Regions from separate parts of the Homo sapiens genome. Here region 2 is linked to region 1. The links come from fine-mapping of genetic effects on gene expression. A gene starts in region 1. The other region holds a variant in brackets. All regions are shown on one strand. Distances are between the middles of the regions.

Region 1 (5,382 bases):
TTTTTTTTTTTTTTTGATACAGAGTCTCGTCCTGTCTCCCAGGTTGGAGTGCAGTGGCACAATCACTGCTCGCTGCAGCCTCTATCTCCTGGGCTCCAGTGATCCTCCCACCTCAGCCTCCCGAGTAGTTGGGACCACAGGTGCACACCATCATGCCTGGCTATTTTTGTATTTTTGGTGGAGATGGTGTTTCACCGTGTTACCCAGCCTGGTCTTGAACTCCTTAGCTCAAGCAATCCACCCACCTCAGCCTCCCAAAGTGCTGGGATTACAGGCATAAGCCACCATGCCTGGTGAAGAAATATTTTCTTAATAACAAACTTAACAAAGAAATTAGACAGGCAAGATAGGGTAGTGATTTTTAGAGTTGAGACAGCCTGGAGTTTGAATCCCAGATCCGGGTATTTAATAGCAACATGACTTACACAATACTTAACCCATTTTGCCTCAGTTTCCTAATCTGTCAAAAAAAAAAAAAAACCTAGTAGTACCACTTAATAGGGTTGTTGTGAATAATGTGGTTATTAGTGTAAAGCTTTAGAACAATGCCTGAAACTTAGTAATTATTCAATAATTAGCCGTTAAAAATGTAACAGCTATATATGTAATGTCAGATAGTGAAAAGTGTTATAAAGAAAAAGAATTCAGGTTGGGTGCAGTGGCTCATGCCTGTAATCCCAGCGCTTTGGGAGGCTGAGGTGGGTGAGCCCAAGAGTTTGAGACCAGCCTGGGTAACATGGCAAAACTCTGTCTCTACAAAAGCCACATACACAAAATTTAGGTGGGCATGGTGGCCTGGGCCTGTGGTCCCAGCTACCTGGGAGGCTGAGGTGGGAGAATCACCTGAGCCTGGGAGGTCGAAGCTACAGTGAGCCAAGATTATGCCACTGCACTCCAGCCTGGGTGACAGTGGGAGACTCTGTCTCAAAAGAGAAAAAAAAGGAATTCAGATAAGGGGATAGTGCATGGTGGGATTATTTTACAGCAGCTGTTGCAGGAAGGCTGCTCTGAGGAGGTGACATATGAGCAGGGACCTGAAACCATATGAGAGAATACGCCATGCCATGGTTTGTGGAAGGACTATTTTAGATGGCAGGAACAAAGGCCCTGGGGCCGACAAGAGCTGCAAGGCCTAGGAGAGGTGGCAGAGAAAAAGATGCAAAGACAATTGTGAGCCAATCCCTACCCCATTGTGCTCTTTCTGTTTACACCTTTGGAAGGCAGCTGTCTGGGGGGGGTCTGATCACTTGCTGCAGGTGCCCTGAAAGGACACATGAGGGGCTGCTGTAGCAAACTGAAAGTCTTAGAGATGGGAAATAAGCTTAATGGATAGTATATACTTACCTTTATCAAATACTACTAGTCAAGTCAGAAGACATTGACAGGTCTAAAATCCCTTATCTTTCTTAAAAAATAGAAAGATAATAGAATGCCTGTGACTGTGTACATATTAACATTCTACAAAGACCTGGAGTGAAATGAGTAAATATTGACACTAAGTGGGATCCATAAAGGCTAGAAATAGCTTCATGCAAGCTTAGTTTAGATTTTGCCTCCAAATGAGGCAGGGCAGGTTTTACTTCCAAAGGGTTACAAAAAAAAGTCTTTGGGTTTTCAGTGCGCTTTGAATTTTGCAATTACAGATAAATGACTGGGAACCTGTAATAATTTCCTCATATGTGTCATTTATAGGATCCGCACTCTGGGAAACAACTTGTAGAAGACAAAATAAAAACCAGAACTCTGGGTAATTCTGCCTTAGCTCCCGTCTTTGAAGTATTTTATATTTGCTAAGTATAAATTCTTAAGATATTCTACTTGAAATAGCTGAAGAATCCCCTCTCTGGGACAGGTGCAGATTAAAAGAGCGCCACTCCATGATTTTCATAAAGGAGAAAATACGGAAGGCAGCCCCTGTGGGCAGCCCCGGGCCTACATGAGTTGATAGAGTTGAAGGTATAAATGTAGAGTATTAAGTTCCCAGTGACCGGAATGACCTGGTGAACAAAGAGGACAACTTTGCCAGTTTTCCCCTCTATTCAGCACATTTTGTTTCTCAGGTAAACATGGCTTGAAGCACGAGTGAGATGAAGCCTCAATGTTGGTGTCTACGTGGAGGCTTCCCGGATAGCCAGGATGTTCATAGCCCGGATGTTCATAGCCCTTCAGAACAGATGGAAATACTGCATTTATCTTCATCTGTACCGAAAAGGTACAGATAGAATGATAATAACCTGAACAAGGCTCCCCTTTCAATCCAATTATTCAGACGCTTAGGACCAGAAACTGCGAAACATAAAAACTGCAACCCGGATCTTAGTTATCTCGGTCTTAATGAGCTGCCGGCTGTTTCCCACTGCACCCCCCTTTCCGGGGGTCTTGCTGCTGAGATCTCCGCGCAGAGGGCGGCTCGGTCATCCCGCCGCCGGGCGCCGGCCACCAGGGGGCGCTGCGGCCTCCTCCCTCTCCCGGGAGCGGCCAAGCCAGCCCGGTGGGTGTTTCTCTCTCCCTCTCGCGCTCTCTCCTCCCGGCCTCACATCCGGGTCTGGAGCGCGGCCGCCGCTGTCACTGTTGGTGCGGGCGCGTCGGGGCCGGGCCGGGGCACTGTAAATGGCGGCGGAGGGAGGCGGAGCGGCGGCCACGCTCAGCCCAGATCCCCCGAAACTTTAGGTTCGAAGCCCCACAACTTTCCGGGAAGCGCTGCCGCTCCGGAGGCGTGGACGGAAGGGGAAGCCGAGGCGGGAAGTCTGGGGGAATCGGCAGGGAGCCGGGGAGACTCGAACCCGCGGCGGGGGCGGAGTCCGCCAGTGCCTCGCGCCTCCGCGGCCCCCGCCTCTTTCTCTGCACCCTCCCCGCGGCCGGAGCCGGAGCCGGAGCCGGAGCCGTAGTCGCAGCCGCAGCCGCAGCCGCGCGCCGGGCCTCGCAGGCAGCGGCGCGGCGAGCGCAGCCGGGCCCCCTCCTCGCGACCTCCGGGCCCTGTTGCTCGGGCGCACCTGGCGCGTGTGAGGCCGGGGCCGGCGTTTTCGGGAAGCTAGCAGGAGGCCGGGCCACGCGCAGCCCCTGCCGGCCCAGGTTCCTGGGGCCGGGCCCCGAGTAGTGCATGCGGGGCGGGGCGGCCGTGAGCCGGAGGCGAAGATGGAAGGCTTAACGCTGAGCGATGCGGAGCAGAAATACTATTCAGATCTCTTCTCCTACTGCGACATTGAGAGCACCAAGAAGGTGGTGGTCAACGGGCGGGTGCTGGAGCTGTTCCGGGCCGCGCAGCTGCCGAACGACGTGGTCCTACAGGTAACGTCGCGTCCCGGGGCCGGCGGGCGGCTTAGGCCTGCAGTCACTGGCCTCCAGGAGTGGGAGTGGGCGCCGATTCCTTGGGGCCCGGCGGGGGGCTGGTTCCTCGGGGGGTCCCCGCAGCGGGCAGGGGCCGCAGGTGCCCGGGAGGCCTGGACTCGCGCCGCGGCCAAGGGGGAGGGGGTTGCCCTTAGAGGACGGAACTCCTGTGGTGGGGGTCTGAAGAGCCTCAGCCGGTATCCCCCACGACCCTGAGAATCTGTGCTCTGTACTGCAAGAGCTATCTCACTTGAAGGATCTTAGGTTGTTAATGTGTGTGAATCCTAGAACCTGGCATATAGAGAGCTTTTCGGATCCTGCAGAGTAGTAAAGTTATCAGTATGGGCAAAATGGTTTTTTTAATTCTTGGATTAACCGAGAAGACGTGATAAAGTGAGTTCTATAGATTTAGGAATCGAAGAAGCAGTTTTTTTAAAGGAAGCAAAATTCTTAGGGAAATTTTTTAAAATGTGAACTACTTAGTAGTTTTACAAGTAGGCATACAAGAAGTTGTAATTATCTGTAGAACGTGTGTATGTGATGAGACTGAACAATGTTTTTCAACAGGCATTCGAAAGCATTTGTGGAACTTGTGGATTTGGGTTGGGAGATGAGTATTGAACAGCTGGTAGGCAGAAGTGCGTTATTTGCCCTAATCTGAAGCCCTGGAGGAGCAAACCCTGTAGGTTTAAAGCCTTTTTTTATCATATCTGCTTTTGAAACAGAGGACTTCCTAGAAGTTCTTATCTAATGTATGTGGTGAGCATTAATGCTACTCTGTTTAATGATTCATAGCTGCTAGTAGGAGTCTGTCTAAACAGTATGTTAGGAACAGGTTTTAAGCTTTCATCTTTTATATTGATCCAAGCTAGTTATCCACATCTCCAAAATTTAAAGCCACATGTATAGGTGTATGTAGTGGACTGCAAAGCATTGGACCAGGGTTTTGAAGGCTGGGTCCTTGACCCTACTCTGCTGTTAACCAGCAGTGTGACTTTGGGTCAGGCACTTTCCATTTTCAAGCATAAGTATGTTCATCCACAGAATGAAGGCAAGTTTCTTCCAACAAAAATTCTGTGAAGAATAAAAATGTCCACACACAGGTCTCTGTTTTAGAAGTTAAGTCTGCATTAACTATGACTAAGTTGAACGAGTTCGATCTTTTTAAATGGTCTTGTGTTTTACATTGCTTTTTTAAAGGTGGGATGTCTTACGTGCCAGTGAAGGGCAACGAGGAGTCCCAAATTCATCCTGTTGAAAAGGGACAAATAGTAAATATTTTGGGCTTTGCTGGCCACATATGCTCTCTGTTGCATATTCTTCTTCTTGTGTTTACAAAACACAAAAATGTAAAGCCATTCTTAGCTCAGGGAGATACAAAACAAAGCCTGTGGTCTGCTAACGAAGGGTGCTGGTAGTGTGGTCTATGGTACTCTCCTGTTACAGCTTTGGAGTAGGACTTAGAGATCTGGTCAGAACATGCTCATTAATCATACTCTTTTTGCTCCTTTTGAAGAAATAACAAAGTATACCTTCAAGTTAGGATCTAAATAAAATTAAGGAAAAGCCTTCTCTGTTCTATTTTAGTTTGTCTTTGAGGTGAGAAAGAGTTGAAATAAAACTTTCAATCTTTTTAATGGGTACACAAAGACTTTAGAACTTGAAATGTAATTTTTAGGACAGACACATTAGCATTAATGAATCTTTACTTCAAACATGTTTAATTCAGTGCAAGTTATTTTTATGTTTTGCTCAATTTTATTAACATTCAAAAAATAAATTTCCATTGTCTTTTGGCATAAAGAGAGAGCTTAAATATTCAGGGTTCAGTTACAAGTTGGAACTCCCTGGAGCAGAACTCTTACAGTTATGTATACTAAATAGCAGTCTAGATATCTTGAAGGCAATTTACTTAAAAATTGGTCTAAGACATAGAAATATGAGACAAAAGGAGAATATGTGCTTAATTCCCTTAAGGGAGTTTGGGATTGTCTGAAAACACAGTCCTCCATTGCTTTCTAAGTGGGAAACATTTGGGGCAGCTCATATCTAATG
Region 2 (5,382 bases), 82 kb before region 1:
CAACAAATCTATAGTTAAGTGATGTAATATAAAATTCTGGCTTGGTAGAGGTCCCTAAAGTGGGAGAAGGAGTTCTGTGGAAGTGGGTGACAATGAAGACCCTTCCTAAATATGGCAGCCGGTTCTCAGGCAGATCAGTTTCAAGTAAGAGTATGTATGGAATTTGAGAACCTAGAAATTGATTCCCTTAGAACTGTGTGTGCTCACATGACCCTTGGAAAGTCTTCAGGTACTCCAGGAATATTCTAGTTTGAAGGCCACTGCTATTAAGAACCAAATAACCAACCTGCTTTGATACCTAAAAATAATCAAACACATAATCAATAACAATTATTATTGAGAAGGGCCAACTGTCATCTATAGGTCAAGAACCCCCCCAGATTATCATTAGTCGTGCTTATTCAACTGAATATCTCAGCTGGATAACTCATAGTAACCTCAAACACAACACATCCATAACTGAATTTATTGTCTTTCCACTGAGGCCTGCTACTCATCCTATATTTCCTGTCTCAGAGCATGAAACTAGCATCTCCACAATGATCTGTGGGAAATGCTGTTGTTGGCCACTCAGTATCCATTCTTCACTAACAGAATCACTTTTAGTTCAGAGAAGCAATCTATTCCGCTTAAAAACTTTCTTGGAAATATATGCAATTTTTTATTTTAAAAAATAATAAGGTAAACAAAGACACATATAAAAAATAAAATAATTCAACAACCAAAAAATAAAGAACCTCCCTTGCAACTAGGGGTAGCTATACAAACTGCTCAGGCTACTGCATATCATAATGACATGGGTGGGACATCCAGGAAGGCTCTATTTTTTTTTTTTTTTTTGAGATGGAGTCTCACTCTGTTGCCCAGGCTGAAGTGTAGTGGTGTGATCTCAGCTCACTGAAACCTCCGCCTCCTGGGTTCAAGCAACTTTTCTGCCTCAGCCTCCCAAGTAGCTGGAATCACAGGCATGCACCACCATCCCCAGCTAATTTTTGTATTTTTAGTAGAGATGGGGGGTTTCACCATGTTGGCCAGGCTGGTCCCGAACTCCTGACCTCAGATGACCCACCCACCTCAGTCTCCCAAAATGCTGGGATTACAGGCATGAGCCACCGTGCCTGGCCCAGGAAGGCTCTTTTTAAAAGGGCTGTCTCTGCCTTTTGCCCTGCAACCCTTCCCTTCATCCAGCTTGGACCAATGTGATGCTGAAAGTAGCACATGCTTCTTACATTAACAAGATGACAAGCACGAGGACGAAAAGCCATTCTAAAGAAGGTTGCGCAGAAAGCTAGGAGAGGCATCACAAATCTGCAGAATAGCAGTAGATTGTGTTGCCAACTGTGATAGTCAAGCACAATCCTGACATCATAACCAACCGAGAAACCTGGACCATTCCCCATGGCTCCTTCTCTCTCACTCCCCACATCCACCTAGTAGCCAAACCTTGATTCTTTTATATCCCTAACATCCCTACTGTCATTCCCGCTTTCTCTAACCCTGTAGCTAACTGCCTCAGTTTGAGACCTTGCTTTTTGGTTTTCCCGTTTTTCTGATGGCAAGGTTTTCTTATTAGAGTCTCAGCTTGTGCCAAAGCTTTAAACGGCTTTTGTTGCCTGTGTCATGAAGCACCAACTTCTTCAAGAGAAACACTAGATCTTAGCATATGCTCTGACTCTTCCTTGGCTTGCTAGACTGATTTTTGACCATATTTCTCCCATCCTTCACTTCAGACAAACTGAGCTACACTAAGTTGTCCTTTGTCTTTGGACCCTTTCTCTCTCTCCTCTGTGCCCTGAAATAACCTTAATCCCTCACTTCATCATGGCAAACATCTACTCTTCTCTTTTTTTTAGAGACAAGGTCTCACTCTGTTGCCCAGGCTATAGTGAAGTGGCATGATCAGAGCTCACTGCAGCCTTGACCTGCCAGGCTCAAGTGATCCTTCCACCTCAGCCTCCCAAGTAGCTGGGATTGCAGGCACCTGCAACCATGCTCCAATAATTTTTTTTAAAAAATTTCTGTAGAGACATGGTCTCCCTATTTTGCCCAGGCTGGTCTCAAACAGTCCTCCCACCTTGGCCTCCCAAAGTATTGGGATTACAGGTGTGTGCCACTCAAGTTATATCACTCTTGAAGCCTTTCCCAGACTCACTCCCTCCTTGTTGAAAAACATAAAGATAATTATGGGATTAGTAAAATGATTTAATTATCGCATTCTTTCTGAGACA[T/G]GGGAATTTAAAATGCCACAATCTACTATATGGGTGTAGAAAAATTATTGTTAACTATTTCTATATCTCTATATATTCTATATCTATCTATCTCTGCCTATAAATGACAGCTGGCCTTTCTCAGCATAATAATAATTGTTACTGAGTATGTGCCTGGTGTGTTTAGATGTCAAGGAAGTTTGGTTGGTTGGTTCCTTTTTTTTTTTTTTTTGAGACGGAGTCTCGCTCAGTCGTCCAGGCTGGAGTGCAGTGGCCCGATCTCGGCTCACTGCAAGCTCCGCCTCCCGGGTTCACACCATTCTCCTGCCTCAGCCTCCTGAGTAGCTGGGACTACAGGCGACCGCCGCCACACCCGGCTAATTTTTTGTATTTTTAGTAGAGACAGGGTTTCACCGTGTTAGCCAGGATGGTCTCAATCTCCTGATCCGCCCGCCTGGGTCTTCCAAAGTGCTGGGATTACAGGCATGAGCCACCGCGCCCAGCCGTTTATTTGGTTCTTAATAGCAGTGGTCTCCAAACTTGAGTACTCCTGGGGATACCTGAAGACTTTCCAAGGGTCACGTGAGCAAAGATAGTTTTACTTGAAATTGATCTGCCTGAGAACGGGCTGCCATGTTTAGGAAGGTTCTTCATTGTCATCCACCTTCCCAAAAGTCATTCTCCTATTTTAAGGAGAAAAATGGACCTCCACCCGGCCAGAATTTTATATTACATTACTTAATTATTAATATATATCACTTAAAATATATGAAATTTTATCAATTTATGAATTTATGAATATATCACTTAATGTATACCAATTTAAATTCAAACTATGCCCTTTGAATTCATCCCATTATAGCTGACATAATTGGTTATGGATTTAATTGTTTTGCTGTGTTAAAAATAAAATCAGATCAAATTTTAAAATTGTTCCTAGGGAAAATATCTATTCAACTATCCCCCATATCGACAATAAGTTATTGTCAGAACATTTTGTGTCACTGGCACAGTTTCACTGGAAATCATGTGTAGTGTGCACATTCACTTTGGATGTTTGTTTTTTTGGAATTTCTTGTATAAGGCAACTTGCACAAATAATATTGTCCTGTTTACTTCAAATATTTTCCCCCTTAAGCCATGACTTTATTTGCTTTGTTGAATAATAAACATAACAGATGAAAAAAAATAAAAGAAACTAACTGTAGAAATTCATGGTGCACAAAGGAACAGTTAGAGAACAAGGAGACCTCAAATAAAATATGGTAAAAAGTCCTGTTCACGGCAGTTATGGAACAGTTTATAGAGCATTAAAGGAGCAAGTATTTTGACTTGTTTCATGACTGGCCTTTAGACGTTAACATTCTTTTTAAGGCAAGCAGAGCTGTTTGAGCTTGTTTGTCTACAGCTAATTGGTTTAATTTCACTGAATCATGTTGACAAGGATGTAAAGCTTATATTTTGTGTTTCATTTATAAATAGAGCTAGCATTTGGGAAAATCAGGATGACTCAAGTGTTGGCTACATGAGTATGGATAGATGGCCTTGAGGTATATCTAAACTGTGGCCTCCATTTTTTATCCCTTTTAATGTCAAAATTATCATTTTCATAGATGCTAATGGTATGACAGAATCAGCCAAGTAATTTCTAAAAATTGCCTCTTAGACTAACATCATTATTTTGTATATCTTATTAACATTGATGTGAATGTTGGGTAGTGAATGATGCCTGGGTGGTTACCTGCTTATTAATTTGCTTTATGTAGGCTCTGATCACAGCTCCACCAATATATCAGCATTTAATGAACATTTGGGGATGATAATCGTATACTAACAATGTCGTTCATTTAGCCATCACAATACAGATACCATCATGCTTTATGTGTTGGTTATGTACTCAGAGTTGAGAAGGGATAATGATACCCAGATTTTTGTTTGATTGTGTTAAAATAAACACTGAGTTTGAAACATCTGGCCAGTCTTTGTTTTTCTATAATATCCATTGATTATTAACTATTTTTAAAAGCCCTTTCTATAATGTCCAAAAACCCTGGTATAATGTACCAATTAAAAAAAAAAAAAGGCCAGGCGCAGTGGCTCACACCTGTATTCTCAGCACTTTGGGAGGCCAAGGCGTATGGATCATCTAAGGTCAGGAGTTTGAGACCAGCCTGACCAATATAGTGAAACCCCATCTCTACTAAAATTACAAAAATTAGCTGGGTGTGGTGGTGCACACCTGTAGTCCCAGGTACTTGGGAGGCTGAGACGGGAGAATTGCCTGAACCTGGGAGGCGGAGGTTGCACCGAGCCGAGATCGTGCCACTACACTCCAGCCTGGATGACAGAGTGAGAGTCCATCTCAAAAAAAAAAAAAAAAAATGGGGTCAGGCACAGTGGCTCATGCCAGTAATTCCAGCACTTTTGGAGGCCAAGGCAGGCAGATTACTTGAGCCCAGGAGTTGGAGACAAACCTGGACAACATGGTGAGACCCCCATCTCTAGAAAAAATACAAAAATTAGCCAGATGTGATGGTGCACACCTGTGCTCCCAGCTACTCGGGAGGCAGAGGTGGGAGGATTGCTTGAGTCTAGGAGTTTGCAATGAGGTGAGATTGTACCACTACACTCCCCAGGTGACAGAGCAAGACCCTGTCTGAAGAAGAAGAAGAAGGAGGAGGAAGAGGAGCAGGAGGAGAAGGAGGAGGAGAGGGGGAGGGGAAGGGGAGGGGGAGGGGGAGGAGGAGACTTGAGAACCTATTTTCTTAGCTTATTGGGCATTTATTTTTAATTATCATATAATTCACTTAATTGAAACACACTTGCAAAAACAGGGCACAATCCTCCAGGCATAGGGTGGCAAACATATAAAGAGAATAGAGGCATCTGCCCTTGCTCCTCAGCACGCATAGTATAAAACTGAGCCCAGTCAAGTTGCTTCAGAAAGAGCTTTTTCTTCCAATCCAATACAGAACTTTCTTCTACTCCTTCTTCCTTCCCATGAGGGCCACCGCTCAGTGTCCCCTTTGCCACTTCTCATTCTGCCCACTAAGCACAGTCTCCAGCTTTTATTCCCATCAAGTGCCTGTCTGGGAACAAGATCAGCAAGACTGTTTGAAAGAGGGAGGAAATGGGAGAAAGAAGTAGAATAAAATGGACCAGAAAATTAGAGGGA

Evidence for each region. PIP is the estimated chance that this variant, and not a neighbour inherited with it, causes the effect.
Region 2: its variant is the best candidate, but not a certain one, in a credible set for the expression of REPS1 in esophagus mucosa (GTEx, PIP 0.56).

What each region holds. Positions count from the first base shown.
Region 1 is chr6:138,985,436-138,990,817 of GRCh38, reverse strand. REPS1 (RALBP1 associated Eps domain containing 1) reads left to right here and starts at 2,565. Exons shown (of 20, transcript NM_001286611.2): 1 at 2,565-3,288. The coding sequence starts at 3,136. RefSeq lists silencers at 2,334-2,573, 2,764-3,063.
Region 2 is chr6:139,067,311-139,072,692 of GRCh38, reverse strand. No RefSeq gene overlaps it. Among named protein-coding and RNA genes, the nearest start is that of ABRACL, 41 kb to the right of the region's middle. The variant T/G (reference allele first, on the strand shown) is at 2,229.